Regions from separate parts of the Homo sapiens genome. Here region 2 is linked to region 1. Evidence: fine-mapped expression QTL. Tissue or cell type: whole blood. Region 1 holds a variant in brackets; the other region holds the start of a gene. All regions are shown on one strand. Distances are between the middles of the regions.

The links. PIP is the estimated chance that this variant, and not a neighbour inherited with it, causes the effect.
Region 2: SLC61A1 starts here. The variant in region 1 is the best candidate, but not a certain one, in a credible set for the expression of SLC61A1 in whole blood (TOPMed, PIP 0.62).

Annotation. Positions count from the first base shown.
Region 1 is chr12:53,277,522-53,287,403 of GRCh38, reverse strand. ESPL1 (extra spindle pole bodies like 1, separase) reads right to left here. Exons shown (of 31, transcript NM_012291.5): 10 at 9,796-9,882; 11 at 9,444-9,583; 12 at 7,538-7,672; 13 at 5,778-5,897; 14 at 4,969-5,140; 15 at 4,147-4,275; 16 at 3,866-4,022; 17 at 3,237-3,346; 18 at 492-1,480. Among named protein-coding and RNA genes, the nearest start is that of PFDN5, 13 kb to the left of the region's middle. The variant GAAATGA/A (reference allele first, on the strand shown) is at 6,949.
Region 2 is chr12:53,247,788-53,257,690 of GRCh38, reverse strand. It overlaps SLC61A1 (solute carrier family 61 member 1), which reads right to left and starts at 5,596. Exons shown (of 2, transcript NM_032889.5): 1 at 5,423-5,596; 2 at 3,285-4,873. The coding sequence starts at 4,855. The coding sequence ends at 3,503. RefSeq lists enhancers at 1,246-1,445, 5,079-5,750, 5,884-5,933 and silencers at 5,274-5,323, 5,334-5,613.

The DNA.
Region 1 (9,882 bases):
AGAGTGAGAGTCCGTCTCAAAAAAAAAAAGAGGCTGAGCATGGTGGCTCACGCCGGTAATCCCCAGCACTTTGGGAGGCCGAGGCGGGTGGATCACGAAGTCAGGAGATCAAGACCATCCTGGTTAACACAGTGAAACCCCGTCTCTACTGAAAATACAAAAAATTAGCTGGGCATGGTGGCAGGCGCTTGTAGTCCCAGCTACTCGGGAAGCTGAGGCAGGAGAATGGCGTGAACCCAAGAGGCGGAGCTTGCAGTGAGCTGAGATTGCGCCACTGCACTCCAGCCTGGGCGACAGAGCGAGACTCCTTCTCAAAAAAACAACAAAAAACAAAAAAGCAAGATATTGGGGTACTGCAGATAGCAGGAGATTAAAGTTCCACTAGGCCCTGGGGAGCTATTCCACAGGGACACCTGCTCTATAAAACACTCTCCTCCAGGACTAACCCCATCCAACACCATCACCACCACCTAGCAACAGTCCCACCTCACCTTGAGGCGCGTCTGGACTCTCTGTTGTACCCTGGGGGCCTGGGGTACTTCAGGCTTGCTCTCTGTAGGGCAGACTTCCTCAAACACCGTGAAGGGGACATGAGGGCCAGCTTGCCTGATCCGGTCTGGGGGTTTAGGTGTGCAGGGCAGTCCTCTACCTTCCAGACCTTTCTGAGAGGTATTATTGAGGCGCAGGGGAGCAGAGGCTAACTTTTGGCGCCCTCGTCCAGAACGTTTTTGGCCCTGAGTCTTAGAGGGCTCTGAGCCAGGGACACTTTTTATTAATGGTGGCTGCCAGCCCCAGGAGCTTGCAAAAAGTTGGGTAGTACAGCAGCTGAGGCCACCTAGTTTTGTGAGGGCCCAAATCAAGAGCAGGCTGGCTCGCCAGGGCTCTAGGTGGGGTATCCGTGCTGCTACAAACTTCAGCCCTGACTGTAGAACCTTCTGCAGGCTCTCGTTTGATGGCTGGTTCAGGCCCTCCAGTGCCAACAGTGTGTATGCTTGAGCCAAGATCTCATCCAAGAGGCTTGGAACCAAGGAGGGGGGTGTTTTATGATTCAGGGAAGCTTGGAGAGCTTGGGTGAGGCGCTCAGCGGCTTCAGGACAGCCCTTCAGCACGACCTGCAGCAGATCCAGACCCTGGGCTTGGTGGCCCATGGCCAGCCTCACCCCTGCCGTGACCAATACCCAGCGCAGACAGACTGCTGTGAGGACAGGGCTGGCGCAGAGCGAGCAGTCACAGGTGGGTGAATGGGACAGGAAGTTGGGTATGGGCTGGGGCTTGGTTTTCAAGACTGGGGAGGAGTTTGTAGAAGGTGCTATGGGGCCAGGCTCCTTGGCCACAGTGGCCACCAGCTCTAGAGCAGGGCCTCTTAGGAAGAGCTCCTCCTCTGGGAGCTGTGGAGGACAGGGGACCTGGGCCTGCTGCTTCCCCTTCTGCAGGTGGACCTTCTTCACAGAGTCCAGGTGCTGAGTCACCCCACCAAACTCTGGGGAGAAGGCAGAACAAGAATTACAAAACGGGGAGAAATGGCATCAAGCACTTCCTGAGCGACCTTGGGGCCCAATTCTCTAATATATGTGTTTTATATACGTACGTGTATATATATGTGTGTATATATATGTATTACTGTATAACATATCAAATATTAGTATGGCTTATTATTTTTTAGGTAAAATCTTTTTCTTTTTTTCTTTTTTTTTTGAGATGGAGTCTCTCTCTGTCGCCCAGGCTGGAGTGCAGTGGCACAATCTCAGCTCACTGCAAGCTCCGCCTCCCGGGTTCATGCCATTCTCCTGCCTCAGCCTCCCGAGTAGCTGGGACTACAGGCGCCCACCACCACGCCCGGCTAATTTTTTGTATTTTTTAGTGGAGACGGGGTTTCACCGTGTTAGCCAGAATGGTCTCGATCTCCTGACCTTGTGATCCGCCCGCCTTGGAGGTAAAATTTTTGTTTTCTTTCCAACCAACAATGGATCAAATGCAGGCCACAAAGCCCCCACACCTGCAGCTCAGGGGCCACATGGCTGAGAAAAGCAGGCTGGCCCCAGCAGGCCCACACCTGAATCCTGCCTCCTACCCTGTGATGCTGGCCCCAAACATAGACTTCTCAACTTTCTCATTTAACAAATGAAAATAATCTATGCTCCCACTCAGCTTTATGAGGTCTAGTGTGGGGCAAATGAAGTACTAGAAGTATATGTGATTGGGGAGACAAAATGTGCCATCAATGCAATGTTTTATTATTAGCTTCAGCCCTCCTGAGGATATGTTTGTGCTACTCAATACGGTAGCCACTAGCCATGTGGCTATTGAGCACATGAAGTGTGGCTAGTGTGACTGAGGACTGAATTCTAAATATTATCTTTCTTTCTTTCTTTCTTCTTTTTTTTTTTTTTTTTGAGTCAGAGTCTCGCACTGTCACCCGGGCTGGAGTGCAATGGTGCAATCTTCCTCACTGCAACCTCCGCCTCCCAGGTTCAAGCTATTCTCCTGCCTCAGCCTTCTGAGTAGCTGGGATTACAGGTGCCCGCCACCATGCCTGGCTAATTTTTGTATTATTAGTAGAGATGGGGTTTCACTTTGTTGGCCAGGCTGGTCTTGAACTCCTGACCCCATGATCCGCCTGCCTCAGCCTCCCAAAGTGCTAGGATTACAGGCATGAGCCACCGAGCCCGGCCCTAAATATTATCTAAATCAAATTTAAATAGCCAAAATGTATTAGGAAGCACTGAAAACTAGAACTAGGGTAAGTCTGGGACAGGCTCTCTGAAAGAGGGAGACCAATGGTTGGACTAAAGTCAAGGGAATGTTGCCCTGGGACCAGAAGTCAGTATCTGATTAAAAAGGGAACAAAGGCCGGGAGCGGTGGCTCATGCCTGTAATCCCAGCACTTTAGGAGGCCGAGGCGGGTGGATCACCTGAGGTCAGGAGTTCGAGACCAGCCTGGCCAACATAGTGAAACCTCATCTCTACTACAAATAAAAAAAATTATCCGGGTGTGGTGGCGCATGCCTGTAGTCCCAGCTACTTGGGAGGCTGAAGCAGGAGAATCACCTGAACCTAGGAGGCAGGAGGCAGGGGTTGCAGTGAGCCAAGATCACGCCACTGCACTCCAGCCTGGGTAATAAAGTGAGACTCTGTCTCAAAAATAAAAAAAGGCAACGAAACCTTTACATAGAAAGATGTGCTGTAGTGTGTGTCATTTCAGCACCGCCTATGGTCATGGGGACATGGCTGCTCACCTGTGCAAGACTCAAGCAAGAACAGAACCTGCTGCAGGTCCGACTGACAGAGATCAATGTCATTGCGGGCCAGCTCCAGCTCGCCCTTCAGCACCAGGAACAGGGCACACCTTGTTGAGAGAGGAGAGGAGAACCAATCAGAGGAATCCTTTGTTTTCCTGGAGAGTCTTTCTCTTTGCCTCTTTCCCAGGCCAAGCTACCTGAGTCCTTCCCTGCCTCCAAAAGGCATTCACTCCCTTAAGCTGACTTAAAGGCTCCCTGGGGAAAACCCTCTACACTTCTCTCTAATCCCAACTCTCCTTGTGCCTTGGGACAGGATTTCCCAAACTGCATTCCTCAATAAAAGAATCCTGTGGGAAAACATTCTTAGGGAAACACTGTACACTAGATCTCCCTTTTGGAGATTTGCAAGGCACATCCGCATACTGAAGGACACGAGAGTCCTACAGGAAATAAAAACATCTAACCTTGATTAACTCAGCATTTCCCACTTATTTAGCTGTGGAATGCCTTTTTCCACGAATGTATCTAAACATAGCATGTAATCTGTGGAACAGTTTGGAATCCATGTTCAAGGGTGCATGGCACTTTGGTGCCATCATTGCCATATCCTCTGGCCCTGTACTTACTGGCGTGGTATCTGCAGCTTTGTTGTAAGTTTTAGGGCCTCCAAGCAAAAGGCCTTGGCTTCACTCACACTACCCAGGCGGCCCAGGTGGCAGACCAGCTTCTCTGAGCAGCTCAGCACCTCTGAAAGAACCTGCCATTTTTGTACCAGATTTTCACCTGTAGCAAAAGAGACAAGACCACCATCACTCAGCCACAGTGTGGATCCTCTGGAGAAAAAACCGCAGCCCTCTCACATAGCCTGTCCATTCCAAGAGGGCCCTGCTGTCCTCCCCAGACTCACCATAGTCCAAAAACGATGTCTCCACAGCTGCTTTCTGAGTTGAGAGAATGTCACTGCCCATCAGCAGGAGGATGATGCTTCGGAGGAGCTTATGGGAGTCTATGAGAGCTATCTCAGGTGTCTGCCAGCCTGTGGTGGGTGGGGTGAAAAAGGGAGAAGATGCAGCCAGAACTTCACCACTTTTAGCTACTAAGGCAGCAAAGCCTGCTTCCCATGCTTCCTTCTGCATTAAGGCAGGCAGAGCTAATCAATCTCATAACTCCTTCCCTCTGAGATCCCCTGGGGTCTCAGAATCCTTTCAGCTGGCTGGGCGCAGTGGCCCAAGCCTGTAATCCCAGCATTTTGGGAGGCTGAGGCAGACGGATCACCCGAGGTCAGGAGTTTGAGACCAGCCTGGCCAACATGGTGAAACCCCACCTCTACTAATAATACAAAAATTAGTCGGGCGTAGTGGCGCATGCCAGTAATCCCAGCTACTCAGGAGGTTGAGGCAGGAGAATCGTTTGAACCCAGGAGGCAGAGGTTGCAGTGAGCTGAGATTGCACCATTGCACTCCAGCCTGGGTGACAACAGCGAAACTCCGTCTTAGAAAAAAAAGAAAAGAAAAAAAAATCCTTTCAGCCTAGTATTCCAGGCAGTCACCAATTGTTTAGAGTCAGCAGGCAAACTGAAACCCATCTGCTATCCCAGGCCTACTCTGTGCAGGTTCTAGGTAGGCTGGGCCACATAGTTAGCCAGCAGAGGGGATGAGGTTTGAGAAGAGCTGACAGCAGACAGACCATACATGTCATCCAAGGGGGGCCATCCACCCTATTCTTTCACCTTGGGCACAGAGCTGCTCCCACAGGGAGTGTGAGAGGTTGTTTGACGGGAGGCTAAGGTAAGCTGCCACCAGCTGCAGGACCTGGACACGCAGCAAGTACCAAGCCTTGGAGGACTTCTGGAGGGCAGGATCCCGAAGCACAGACAGCAGCAGAGAGACACCCTTGGTCACCTGAAGGAGAGAAGGAGCCAGAGGAGGCAGTAAGGCAGTCAGGCACTCCAGAGCTTGAGAGGCCCTGGAGATTACGTGGCCCCATCCCTGAAGGCCCTGGGTATTAGAAAGATTTTAGAATTTTCTGAATATTTGCCTGGCTTTCGAGATCTCCCTGGACCTAGGCAGAATGTTCCTGACCCTGAGAAGCAGTAACAGTTCCTAGCTTTGCCCTCACCAGTGACTTGTCCGCCAATTTAGGAATGATAAAAACGTAGAGAAGAAACTAGAGCATGAGAAGGTAGAAGACGTGCCCAAGTCACACAACTAGTTTGGGAGAAAACTCAAGTCTTTGCCATCCCCTGGATTTCTAGTCCAGAGCTCCCATGCCTTCCCAGGATCACCATTGTCCCAGCTTTTCGTCACAGGACAGACTTTCCCCCTTGCCCCTGAAGAAGGAAAAGGACTGTATCTCTACCAGAGGAGGACTGGTGAGCAAATCGCTGGCGAGGGCAAGGCTAGGAAATATGCCTGCCTCTCAGGGTCAGGAACATACTGCCTAGCTCCAGGGAAATCTCAAAAGCCAGGCAAATATCAAGAAAATCCTAAATTCTTTCTAATACCCAGGGCCTTCGGAGTTTAAGAAAGTGAGAAATACCTTCTGGTGAGTCCAGTAGAGTTGACTTCGAAGCAGATCACAGGTCAGGGAAAGGAGCAGGTATGTGTCAGTAGTCTGATCGAGATGCTTCAGGCTCGATGCTGCCTCTTCCAGGTGTAACTAAGGAAGCAATCAGAGGGCACATGAGGAAAGGCAGCCAGGCTCTTCAAACAAAACTGGAGTAAATAAGGGTGGCCATGTGGCTCACACCTGTAATCCCAGCACTTTGGGAGGCCAAGGTGGGCGGATCACCTGAGGTCAGGAGTTCAAGACCAGCCTGGCCAACATGGTGACACCCCCATCTCTACTAAAAATACAAAAATTAGCCAGGTGTGGTGGCACGCGCCTGTAATCCCAGCTACTCGGGAGGCTGAGGCATGAGAATCACTTGAACCCGAGAGGCAGAGGTTGCAGTGAATGGAGATCGCGCCACTGCACTCCAGCCTGGGCAACAGAGTGAGACTCCGTCTCAAAAAAAAAAAAAAAAAAAAAGTGGAGTAAAGTATTTACAAGCAAAATGTTCAACATGTCCAATAAATATTACATTATTTCAGATATTATAATCTGCATAGGAGTTATTGATTCACTCTCTAAAATGTCCATTTAACACTTGGTTAACCACTTTTTTTTTTTTAGGACGGAGTTTCGCTCTTGTTGCCCAGGCTGGAGTGCAATGGTGTGATCTCAGCTCACCGCAACCTCCGCCTCCCGGGATCAAGTGCTCTCCTGTCTCAGCCTCCCAGGTAGCTGGGATTACGGGCATGCGCCACCATACCTGGCTAATTTTGTATTTTTAGTAGAGACGGGGTTTCTCCATGTTGGTCAGGCTGGTCTCCAACTCCTGACCTCAGGTGATCTGCCCACCTCAGCCTCCCAAAATGCTGGGATTACACGTGTGAGCCACTGCGCTCAGCCTGGTTAACCACTTTTAGATTAAAGCTATATACAGAGTAAGCAGTAGCTGGGCACGGTGGCTCATGCCTGTATTATCAGTACTTTGGGAGGCTGAGGTGGGAGATCACTTGAGCCCAGGAGTTCAAGACCAGCCTGGGCAACATAGTGAGACTCTGTCTCTACAAAACATTTAAAAATTAGCCAGGTGTGGTGGCATGTACCTGTAGTCCCAGTTACTCGGGAGGGTGACGTGGAAGTGGAAATGGAAATGGAAATG[GAAATGA/A]CACCACTAAAAACAGAATGCTATAAACAGAATGATGTCTTCTGTTTCCAAAGTCAATATACTAGAGTGATGCAAAAATAGTAAGAGTGAGATATTTTGTGGCAAAGTTATCCAGGGGTAAACACTGCAGCCGTAAGCGCTGGCAAGTATTATTGGGGCAAAAGGGAACAGGGTTAAGCAGGAAAGAGATTACATCACACCTGTGCCTACCAGTGGTCGTTAAGAAGACGAAGTAGAAAAGGGAGAAACTGGAGGCAAGGAGACCAACCAGGAGACACTGTGATAGCTTTACATGAGCAATGAAGCATCAACTAGGGCAACAGAACCAGTTAGGAAATACAAGACTGGCGGTAGGTTCCTGCAGCAGTCTGTAAACTTAATGAACAACTGGTTTTGCAGGAAGGACAAAGATGACTCCCCTTCTTACAGCTGCCTCCAACTGCTCCACACTCCACAATTCTCCAGCCAGTTGTGGTGGTAAAAGGCCGAGAAGCTGCCCCTTTGATATCCTGTCTTCTCAGAGGTGGGCCTCTAAAGCTACGGGCCCCCTGCAGTCCCCAGACTAGGCTGGTTGGGCACTCACCTGGGCATAGCTGGGACAGCCGAGGGTCAGGAGGAGCTGGGTGATGTGGCAGGAGGAGCCAGCTGCCTTCGAGTGGTCCTTCAGTCTCTCAGAGACAATCCGTAGCAGCAGGAGGACCTCCAGAGCCTGCATGGGCTGGTCAGCAGAAGCAGCCAAGTTTACTCCACCCCTGCTCAAGCCTCTATTTCTACCCTCTGCTCCCCAGCCCTTTGGGACCTTGGACTGTAGTTTGACCTCAGGGCCTGGGTGGAATGTAGTTACCCAGATGAAGCAATCATCACCCCACCCCTACTGTTTTAAAGCCTAGATGCCATTCATCATCAATAGCCAGGATTTTCTGAGTTCTTACTATGTGCCAGGCACTGTGCCCAGGCTTACATGCATCAGTGCATTTAACCTTCATAACAAGTCTAATCCCAATTTTACAGTACAGGAAGCTAAGACTCACATGGGTTAAGTTGCTTGTCTAAGTTCATATAACAGGTATGTGGCAGAACCAAGTCTCAAATCTAGGGCTGAGGTAGCTTCCCCTGCTAGAAATATGGTTTAATAGCTCATAGTTAACAGCATGTATAAAGGCTTTTTGTTTGTTTGTTTGTTTCCTAATGTGGAGTCTAGGGTAGAGCTTCAGGAATTTTGTGAAACTCCCTGAAATAAGAATGTACATGGCCTTATAGGCCAGGCACAGTGGCTCATGCCTGTAACCCCAGCACTTTGAAAGGCTGAGGCAGACGGGTCACCTGAGATCAGGAGTTCGAGATCAGCCTGGCCAACATAGTGAAACCCCATCTCTACCAATAATACAAAATTAGCAGGGTGTGGTGGTATGCGCCTGTAGTCCCAGCTACTCAGGAGGCTGAGTGAGCCAGGAGAATCGCTTGAACCCAGGAGGTGGAGGTTGCAGTGAGCTGAGATCACGCCACTGCACTCCAGCCTGGGTAACAGAGCAAGACTCTATCTCGGCGGGGGGGCGGGGCGGAAAGCTGGGTGCGGTGGCTCACGCCTGTAATCCCAGCACTTTGGGAGGCTGAGGCGGGTGGATCACCTGAGGAGATCGAGACCGGCCTGGCCAATATGGTGAAACCCTGTCTATACTAAAAATACAAAAAAGTAGCCAGGCGTGGTTGCGTGCCTGTAGTCCCAGCTACTCAGGAGGCTGAGGCAGGAGAATCACTTGAACCCAGATGGCGGAAGTTGCAGTGAGCCCAGATTGCGCCACTGCACTCCAGCCTGGGCGACAGAGTGAGACTCCATCTTGAAAAAAAAAAAGAAGGCACACATAAGAATGTAAGAATGTAAAATTGTGTCTAAAGGCATCTATGTATTTTTCTGATAGGTAACAAATCATCTAATAATTAAAGCTAACTTTTTTTTTTTTAATGAAATAGCGTGAAACAGCATCTTGCTCTGTCCCCCAGGATGGAGTGCAGTGGCGCGATCTTGGCTCACTGCAACCTCTACCTCCTGGCTCAAGGGATTCTCCTGCCTCAGCCACCTGAGTAGCTGGGATTACAGGCACATGCCACCGCACCGGGCTATATTTTTTTTATTTCTTGTAGAGACGGGGTTTCGCCGTGTTGCCCAGACTAAAGCTAACATTTGAGCATACCATTTACACAATACCTCTTCCATGCACTGCTGCACTGAATAATAACGCCACGAGGCAGTAGCATGGCCCCTATTTTAGAGATAAGGAAACTTGGGCTTAGGTTAAGCAACTTGCCCAAGGCCATACACTAATGAATGAGGGAGCTTGGATTTAAAATAAGACTGGTGATACAGCCCTGCGCTTCCATCACTGGCTTTCATGGCTTCTCAGGAGGATCACAGGCCAAAGAAGGCGAGGGAGCTGTTTCTGGTCTAGTCCTTGTTTATATGGGTCCCCCTCAATGCCCCACCCCATTACCTTTGCCACCAGCTGGTAGAGGGCTGCTAGGATCTGCAGTGAGGCTGCTGTCTGCTGGAGACACCGTACAGCTGGGGCCTGCCCCTTTGTAAGCAGCTCCTTCCACAGGGCCAGGGCTTGGTCCAGGCATTTGGACTGAGCTGTTAAGCCAGAAGAAAATGACTGCTGTCTCAGCATGGGCCATCTGGAGAGAACTTCCCTTCCTCCATAACATCCTCTGCCCTTTACGCCAACCTCCCACTGCTTCCACAACCTCCTACCCTACAAGGTCAGGGTTTCCCTCACCAGGGGTCCCTGTTCCACTCTTAGGAAGCCATGGAGATGCCCATGCCACACTCCATTTACCCCTCACCAGCATCTGCAGCCAGGTTGAAGGCAATGTTACTGTATAGGAAACGATCTTCCTGGAGTTTATCTTCATAGTTCAGGTCATTGACTT
Region 2 (9,903 bases), 30 kb after region 1:
GCTACATGCCCTTAGGCAAGTTATTTGCTTTCTTTAAGTGGATTTTCCTCTTGGGTAAAATAAATAAATAAATAAATAAATAAATAAATAAGGCCAGGTGTGGTGGCTCACGCCTGTAATCCCAGCACTTTGGGAGCCTGAGGCGGGTGGATCACGAGGTCAAGAAATCAAGACCATTCTGGCCAACATGGTGAAATCTCGTCTCTACTAAAAATTAACTGGGTGCGGTGGGGTGTGTCTGTAGTCCCAGCTACGCGGGAGGCTGAGGCAGGAGAATCACTTGAACCTCGGAGCCGAGATGGTGCCACTGCACTCCAGCCTGGCAATACAGCGAGACTCCATCTCAAAAAAATAAATAAATAGGCCGGGCACGGTTGCTCATGCCTGTAATCCCAGCACTTTGGGAGGCCAAGGCGGGTGGATCATGAGGTCAGGAGTTTGAGACCAGCATGGCCAAGATGGTGAAACCCTGTCTCTACTAAAAATACAAAAATTAGCTAGGCGTGGTGGTGCACGCCTGTAGTCCCAGCTACTTGGGAGGCTGAGGCAGAATTGCTTGAACCTGGGAGGTAGAGGTTGTGGTGAGCCGAGATTGTGCCACTGCACTCCAGCCTGGGTGACAAGAGCGAAACTCCATCTTAAAAAATAAAATAAAATAAAATAATAAATAAAAATATCACCAGTACCTAGCGGTAAAACACACGGCATAGCAGGTGCTCAATAAAAAATGTTTAAGGCCAAATGGATAATCTCTAAGATGCCTTCCAGCTCTTAACACGCTGTGAGTCTGACAGGAAAGAACACTCTCCACTCTATTTGCCACCAGCCCCTTTGAAGCAAGCTCATCAGGGACAAAGCTAAAGGAATCTCATTAGTCTCCCCTACCCCTCTATTTCCATATCACTTAGGAATGTGAGGGCCACTAATAATTACTGTCAGGCCAGGTGTGGTGGCTCACACCTGTAATCCCAGCACTTTGGGAGGCTGAGAAGGGAGGATGGCTTGAACCCAGGAGTTTCAGATGAGCCTGGGCAACATAGACCCTTGTCTCTACAAAAATTTTTAAAAAATTAGCTGGGTATGGTGGTGCTGCCTGTAGTCCCTACTACTTGGGAGGCTAAGGTGGGAGGATCGCTTGAGCCCAGGAGGTCGAGGCTGCAGTGAGCCATGATCCTGCCACTACACTCTGGCCTAGGCGACAGAGCGAGACCCTATCTCAAAAACAAAATAAAACAAAAACCGATAATAATGATATTGTCATCCAAAACAACAAATCACCAAGTGTCTCCTGAAAAGCCAGGTGTGAGCTAGCCTGTCTCCTCTCCAGATATGTACTGAGCACAGCCATGGGGAAAGCATCCAATTGTGTGTATATATGCAGGAGATAAAGGTGAGTAAGACTGTTTCCTCTTCCCCTCAAGATCATAGCATGATCTTGAGACGGAACATCTACAAATAACTATAAAGTATATCTAGGTCTAGCCCAACAGGGCAGAAAGAGGAAGTGGAGTTATTGCAAGACTGTCTTTAGTCTTGAGATGATGGGTGGCAGGAGTAGGGGGGTAGTAGAAAAGATGCCTTTTCTTTTTTTTTGTTTTTTGAGACAGTCTCATTCTGTTGCCCAGGCTGGAGTGCAGTGGCGTGTCTCAATTATCACTCACTGCAGCCTCGATCTCCCAGGCTCAATTGATCCTCCCACCTCAGCCTCCCAAGTAACTCAGACCATGGGCACATGCCACTACGCACAGCTAATTTTTGTATTTTTTGTAGAGACGGGGTTTCGCCGTGTTGCCCAGGCTGGTCTCAAACTCCTGGGCCTCCCAAAGTGCTGGGATTACAGGTGTAAGTCACCACACCTGGCTGATATGTGTTTTTCTTACTTAACCTCAACCTCTATTCCCTGAAGCCTGGGTGGGGGAACATGTTTTTTCCTAGTCTGAGTAGGGACCTGAGACCACCACCCATTCCTCCCCTTGGCCTCACCCTGCAGAAGCCCTTCCACCCTGCATTCCACCAGCACCTGCTGATGCTATCTCTCCACACAGGTTGGGACCTGCAGGTCTTGGAACATCCTGCATCTTTCTGAGTAGTCTGGGACCCAAGGAAAGGTCATTAACCCCTTTCCAGAAAGGGTATGTGTCCCCCATGCCCATCTCAAGCACATTCCAGGACACATCCTTGAGCCTACCCTCCTTCCCTCCCCACCCTTCTTAAAGCTGGCTGTGCTTCCCCTGAGAAGCCCAGGTTTTGGTGGGAGGAGGAAAGGCAGATACAATCAGAGGTGAGGCAGGGAGGCACCCACAGAACTGGCTCACTAGTACTGTTTCCTGCCCTGATGGCTCCCTCACCCTCATTCAGGCTGGGTTGGGGACAGTCAGGTACAGATAAGACATCCTAGTCCCTCAGCCATGCACCACTCTGTCCCCTTGGCAGCCTTTCACTTCGGTTTCACACAGGGATACAGGATCTGGTAGACCCAGATGATGTTGGACAAATGGTGCATTCATAGCCACAGAGGCAAAAGGGAGGCAGCAGGCCTGTGCTGAGCTGCAAGCTTACTTTGGTAGGAAGGGCCCTGGCTTTGCCCAAGGAGTGGTCACAGCAGCAGCCCAAGCCCCTGGAATCTTTGCTCAGTGGCCTGGCATATGGGGCATCTACTCCATGTGCTCTGGAGATCATCTTACCCTGGATGTAAGCAAGGGTTCTGCTTGACAACTGGGGGGAGTGCCTGTCCCACAACAGAGGAATGTGGAGGACCTAGAAGCCTCAGGCCCTTCCCACACAGCTCTGCTGAGAGCAATTCCATAGTTCTCAGTTTGAACTGGAGACAGCCTTGGAGAAGTTAGAAACAGAAAACTTTTGCTGATAATCCCACCTCAAAACCTCTAGCTGGGCTGGGCGTGGTGGCTCATGCCTGTAATCCCAACACTTTGGGAGGCCGAGGTGGGTGGATCACCTGAAGTGAGGAGTTCGAGACCAGCCTGGTCAACATGAAACCCCATCTCTATTAAAAATACAAAAATTAGCTGGGCATGGTAGCAGGCACATGTAATCCCAGCTACTTGGGAGGCTGAAGCAGGAGAATTGCTTGAATCCGGGAGGCGGAGGTTGCAGTGAGCCAAGATCGCGCCATTGCACTCCAGCCTGGGCGACAGAGCAAGACTCCGTCTCAAAACAAAAACAAACAAAACAAAACAAAAAAAAACTAAAAAAAAAACCTCTAGCTGCCCACTCACCAGAAACTACTGATAAGGCTACAGGTAAGGATGAGTAAATCAAATCAATGATCATTTAAAAGTGTTTATTTTCTAAATGGGAGTAACACAGAGGGAACTTTTGGCACCTTCTTTCCAGTCCATCACCCCCATCATGTCCTCCCAAACACAAAGCAATGGCAGGAGAAACCACAGGACAGTCACAAAGTCAGTCACAGAGAGATCTGTACAATCCCGGATAGCTGGAATTCAAGAGTCTGTCCCAGCTATCTTGTCCTGGAGTGGGGTTACAGCTCAGGGGCATAGGGCTCCTCAGTAGGTGAAGGTACCCGCAGCTCAGCATCATGCCTTACCACGGTGAAGAGTCCCACCACTGCCAGCAGAGCCATCACCATGACAGCAGAGCAAATGCTGAACATATTCCGAGTGCCTGTTTTTCGATCACTGTCATGGAGGACAAGGAGCCCTAGGCAAGCCAGTGAGTGCAGAGGTACCCGGAACCAGTTGAGTACACCAGCCTGCTCTGTCTCAGGGATCACCTTTCTCCGTAGGAAGCTCATGCTGGGAAAGTATAATCCACAAGCCAACTCAATAAGTAGAAAGGCTATGAAGGACTCCACCGGACTCTCCTGGCCTGGGCTGGTAGAGAAAGTCAACATGAAGAGAGAGAAGACGACGATGAGCACAGCAAGGGACAGCAGGTGCATGGGCTGAAGGTGGTACCTCTTGGAGGTGGCGATACGGTACAGGGAAGAGCCAAGCAGGCTGGCTGCCATGAAGCTGGAGAAGATAATGCCCAGAGGGGCCCCGTGTGGGTCCAGCACAGGTGTCCAGAGGAAGACAAAGATGAAGATGACACTCTCAAATAGAGCTTGTATGGTGCCCAACAGCAGCACGCGGCGGTCCGACAGGAGGCAGCGCAGGCCTCCAGCACAGGTCCTTGAGAAGGCACGCTGCCGGTCATAGTTCTCCCCCCAGTTTCGAAGGGCCAAGGCCCCTGCCAGAGCCAGGAGAGGGATGGCAGCCACAAAGGGCGCTACAGGCCCCAGCCCTATCCAGCTGGCTACAGCCTCAGCTGCCACACCTGCCACTACAGCCAGCACATGGTTCCAGAAGGCAGCTCGAGCAAAGGTAGCTGGGATCCACTCAGCAGGGAAGTCATGCCGTTCCACGTGCTCATGGATATACCAGGCCTCGAAGGCTGAGAAGAGCAGGGCTGTGGACAGCCCACCAAGTGCTCGCCCCACTAGCAGCACAAAGTAGTCTTGAGAGAGTTTGGTTAAGCAGCATAGTGAGTAAGTCAGGGAGAAGAGGACACAAGAATTCTTGCGACCCAGCCAATCCACAAGGGAGGAGGCCACTAGGCCAAAGAGGACTGTAGAGGCAAGGCCACAGACATAGAGGATGGCAATTTGACCTTCCAGGAAGTAGTAATGCTGGTAGAGTTTATAGAGGTAGGGGGCCTGAAGCCAATCAGCTGCCAGGGCCAGGAAGTAGACCTGATAGAAGTCCAGTTGAAACCGAAGGAAGGAGGGATTGCTGCAGGCCCTTCCAGGGGGTTTAGCCCGGCATCTTGACAGTTCCAGCCCCAGGCAGGAGGCCAGGAGGCCTACAAAAGCAAGGTAGGCAGTCACCAGCATGGTGGGCCCCCGGACGACCTGGGAAGAGAGGTGGGAGTCAGAGCCATATCCATCCTTCGGGCAGCACGGTCAAGGGGCTGTCTTAAGCAGATGGCAGCTCCACCCAACCCCGCTGCCAACTCCACTCCCCAAGATCTCAGACCGGAGGGACCAGTTGGGTGGGTGGGAGGAGTGGCCACGCCAAAGCTGTCTCCTAGGACACTGTGGGGCAGGGAGGGGTAAGAAGACAGGGGAGAGGACTGGGCACTCAACCCATCCTTGCCTGTGAAGAGGGAGTCCCTTTCAATAATCCCGCTCCCGCAAATTCTACTGCCCTTTCCCACAGCAGCTCCCGTACACTTCCTTCTATTACCTCCCGTCCTCGCTGCGGAGCCTCTTTTTGCCCTCAGTGTCTCATCCTCTGTCCCGGGCATCCCTCCCACCCGCGCAGGCCTCTCGAGTTGCTTCAGGGTCATGCGTGTGCATCTCAGAGGCCCACTCCTCCAGGTCACTGGCACCCCACTGCGCCCCCTAGCCCCTGCCCAGCCCTGCCACATCCACTTGCACCTCGCCCAGACTCCGCCTCACCTGCTGCCCCGGTCTGCGGGGACGCCCCGGACACGTCCGGCTCCAGGCCGCCAGGCCACCCTCCCCGCTGTGGCTCCGGCTCCGGCTCGGGTTCCAGCAGCGCTCCCGCCCCTCACAGCCTGCTTCCGGGAGCCGGGCAGGCCTCTGGCCGCCGCCATGATGGCTTCATCACGTGACGGGGGCGCGGCGCCAAAACCCCGCCCCGCCCCGCCCGCCCGCCCTCCTTCCCTTACCCGGGCGCGGAACTCCTGACGCCTGGGGTGGGTCGGGAAGGGGCGACCATAGGAGGCTGCGGTTGCTTCTCCTGGCCTGGCCTCGCTCGCTGCCATCCCGTGACACCTGCTCCTCTGGCTCTTGGATGCCTGAGGGGCCACCCTGAAATAAGTGCCAATTTTCTTTTCTTCCGTGCAGTGCTCGGGAAAGATGCCCGCAGTCCGGTAGAGCCAAGGGTTGGAGCTTCCTAAGGAACAGCACCGCTGCCCGAAGCCGAGAAGGTCTCCTTGGTTTGCCTCCTCTCCCACTGCAGTGACCTCCATGCAAGAGAAGCCAGTATGGTCCAGACACCTGAGGGAGGCGGTGTGGTGTAAAGAACTTGGAGTCGGGCTGCAGACAGACTAAGGCGCAGTCCTGCCCCTGTCACTTACCAGCTGTGTGGCCTTGGGCAAGCCGCATAACTTCCCAGTGTCCCAGTTTCTTTGAAGTCACAGGATAGCAATGCCCAAATAAAGAAGGCTAAAGTTCAGTGGCAGCATGGGGTTAAGAACTTCAGCCTTGGAGCTTAATTCCCTACCTTCTGCCACTTACAAGCTGTTTTACCTTGGAAAAACTATTTAACCTCTCTACAGCTTCCGTATCATCTCCTCAAGAGCCTCCAATGACTTCCCATCTCACTAAGGGTAAAAGCCGAAGTATTTATAATGGCCTACAAGACCCTCTGTCCTCTGACCCTCTGCCACTCCTCTGACTTCATCCCCTGCTCCTCTCCCTCCCATCTATGTTGGCTACCACCAGGGCTTTTGCACACTGTTCCCTGTACAGTTCTTCTCCAAGATATCCACGTGGTTCCCCCCCCCACCTCCTCCAGTTCTCTGTTCAAATGTCACCTGATCTTGGCTGGGCCTGGTGGCTCATTCCTGTAATCCCAGCAGTTTAGGAGGCTGAGGCAGGCCGATCAGTTGAGGTCAGGAGTTCAAGATCAGCCTGGCCAACATGGTGAAACCCCGTCGCTAGTAAAAAAATATAAAAATTAGCCAGGCATGGTGGTGGGCACCTGTAATCCCACCTACTCGGGAGGCTGAGGCAGGAGAATCGCTTGAACCAGGGAGGCAGAGGTTGCAGTGAGCCAAGATCACGCCACTGCACTCCAGTCTGGGTGACAGAGCGAGACTCTGTCTCACAAAAAAATAAAAAATAAAATAAAATTTTAAAAAATGTCACCTGATCAGAGGGGCCTTCCATGGCCCTCCTGTTTAAAATAGCAACACCACCACCTCCAGCACAGTAATCTACCTACTTTCCTTCCAATTTTCTATTCTCTCTGCTGCTTTTACTCTGCAGTACACTATGTATTTTCCTTGTTTATTTATTTACTATCTTGGCCAGGTGTGGTGGCTCACACCTGTAATCTCAACACTTTGAGAGGCCAAGGTGGGTGAATCACTTGAGGCCAGGAATTTAAGACCAGTCTGGCCAACATGTCGAAACCCCATGCCTACTAATAATACAAAAAATTGCTGGGCGCGGTGGCTCACACCTGTAATCCCAGCACTTTGGGAGGCCGAGGCGGGCGTATCATGAGGTCAGGAGTTCAAGACTAGCCTGGCCAATATGGCGAAACCCCGTCTCTACTAAAATTACAAAAAAATTTGCTGGGCATGGTGGTGTGCACCTGTAATCCCAGCTACTTTGGAGGCTGAGGCAGGAGAATTGCTTCAACCTGGGAGGCAGAGGTTGCGGTAAGCCGAGATTGCACCACTGCACTCCAGCCTGGGCAACAGAGCAAGACTCCGTCTCAAAACAAATAAACAAAAAAATTAGCTGGGCCTGGTGGTGCGCGCTTGTAATCCCACCTACTCAGGAGGCTGAGGTACGAGAATTGCTTGAACCTGGGAAGCGGAGGCTGCAGTGAGCCAAGATTACACCACTGCACTCCAGCCTAGGGGACAGAGCAAGACTTCGTCTCTAAGTAAATAAGTAAATATTTACTATCTCTTTCCCTACAGATTTTTATCTGTTTTGTTCACCTGTATTCCCTATACTTAAAGCAGTCATTGATAAGTATTAATCATAAATATTCCATAAATAGTCTATGAATAAATGAATAAGTTATGTAAATTACTATCAAAAGTACTGGCCCATATTAACATAATAACACTTATCAGTTATTATGTACCTAAGGAGTTTTAAGAAGGTTTAGTCCAACTGCTGTAGGTGAATTATCTCATCTGACTGACAACAATCCATACAGTAGGTACTAACCAGAGTTGGAAAGGTTAGGTAACATGTTTAGAGTTACATAGTAAAAGGCAGTTAGAAGCAGGACCCAATCTTTCCAGTTCCAAGCTCACATAGTTTCTGCAATTATACTAGTTCACCTACTTGCGCAGCAGATCAGTCTTTTTTTTTTTTTATTTGAGACGGAGTTTCACTCTTGTTGCCCAGGCTGGAGTGCAATGGCGTGATCTCAGCTCACTGCAACCTCCGGCTCCCGGGTTCAAGCGATTCTCCTGTCTCAGCCTCCCAAGTAGCTGGGATTACAGGCATGCGCCACCACCCCCAGCTAATTTTGTATTTTTTAGAGACAGGGTTTCTCCACGTTGGTCAGGCTGGTCTCGAACTCCCAACCTTAGGGGATCCGCGCCCGGCCTGTTGGTTTTTTTTTTTTTTTATACTAAAGCTTAGAGGTAGGGTAGGAGGGTTTGGGATTACATCTGGAGAAATACTTTCTTTTGGCCAGGCATGGTGGCTTACGCCTGTAATCCGAGCACTTTGGGAGGCCAATGTGGGTGGATTATTTGAAGTCAGGAGTTCCAGACCAGCCTGGCCAACATGGTGAAACCCCATCACTACTAAAAATACAAAAAGCTGGGCGATAGTGGCACACACCTGTAATCCCAGCTACTTGGGAGGCTGAGGCAGGAGAATCTCTTGAACTCAGGAGGCAGAGGTTGCAGTGAGCCGAGATCATGCCACTGCACTCCAGCCTGGGGGACAGAGTGAGACCCTGTCCCAAAAAAGTCTTGAACTTCTGGCCTTAAGGGTTCCACCCTCCTTGGCCTCCCAAAGTGCTGGGATTACAGGCATGAGCCACCGTGTCCAGCCTGGAGAAATACTTTCTTATGATAAAACAGCTGATTTACGCCCTACAAGTTCCAAAGCGCTTTCATCCCTAGCTGGCAAACTAGTGGAAAGTAGAAAGGGGTGATGGTTCCCATGCTTTCATCTAGAAACACTAAGATAGAAAATCATGATTTCTGACCAGGGGTGGTGGCTTGCGCCTGTAATCCCAGCACTTTGGGAGGCCAAGGTGGGCGGAACTCTTGAAGCCAGGAGTTCAAGACCAGCCTGGCCAACATGGCAAAACCCCATCTCTACAAAAAATACAAAAAAAATAGCCGGGCCATGGTGGTGCATGCCTGTAATCCCAGCTACTCAGGTGGCTGAGGCAGGAGAATCATTTGAACTCGGGAGGTGGAGGTTGCAGTGAGCCAAGATCGCATCACTGCACTCCAGCTTGGGCAACAGAGTGAGACTCTGTCTCAAATAAATAAATAAATAAATAAATCATGATTTCTGCTAGGCTTGGTGGCTCATATCTGTAACCCTAGCACTTTAGGAGGTTGAGGTGGGAGGATCTCTTGAAGCCAGGAGTTTGAGGCCAGCCTGGGCAACTAGGGAGACTCCTGTCTGGGCATGGTGGTGGGTGCCTGTAACCCCAGTTATTCCTGAGACATAGGCAGGAGGATTGCTTGAGCCCAGGAGTTCAAGGCTGCAGTGAGCTCTGATGGTATCACTGTACTTCAGCCTGGGTGACAGAACAAGCCCTGTCTTTTAAAAAGGAAAAAGCAGTGTATGGTGGCTTATGCCGGTAATCCCAGCATCCCAGCACTTTGGGAGGCCCAGGTGGGCAGATCACCTGAGGTCGGAAGTTCGAGATCAGCCTGACCAACATAGAGAAACCCCGTCTCTACTAAAAATACAAAATTAGTTGGGCAGGGTGGCACATGCCTGTAGTCCCAGCTACTCAGGAGGCTGAGGCAGGAGAATCGCTTGAACCTGGGAGGCAGAGGTTGTAGTGATCTGAGATCGCGCCATTGCACTTCAGCCTGGGCAACAAAAGCGAAACTCTGTCTCAAAAAAAAAAAAAAAAAAGGAAAAGGAAAAGAAAAAAGTCATGATTTCCCCAGGGTCACTCAGTAAGTGCCCTCCAGCCCAGTCCTGGGCTTCAGCCCCTTGAACTCATGACAGTGAGTCTCTGAATT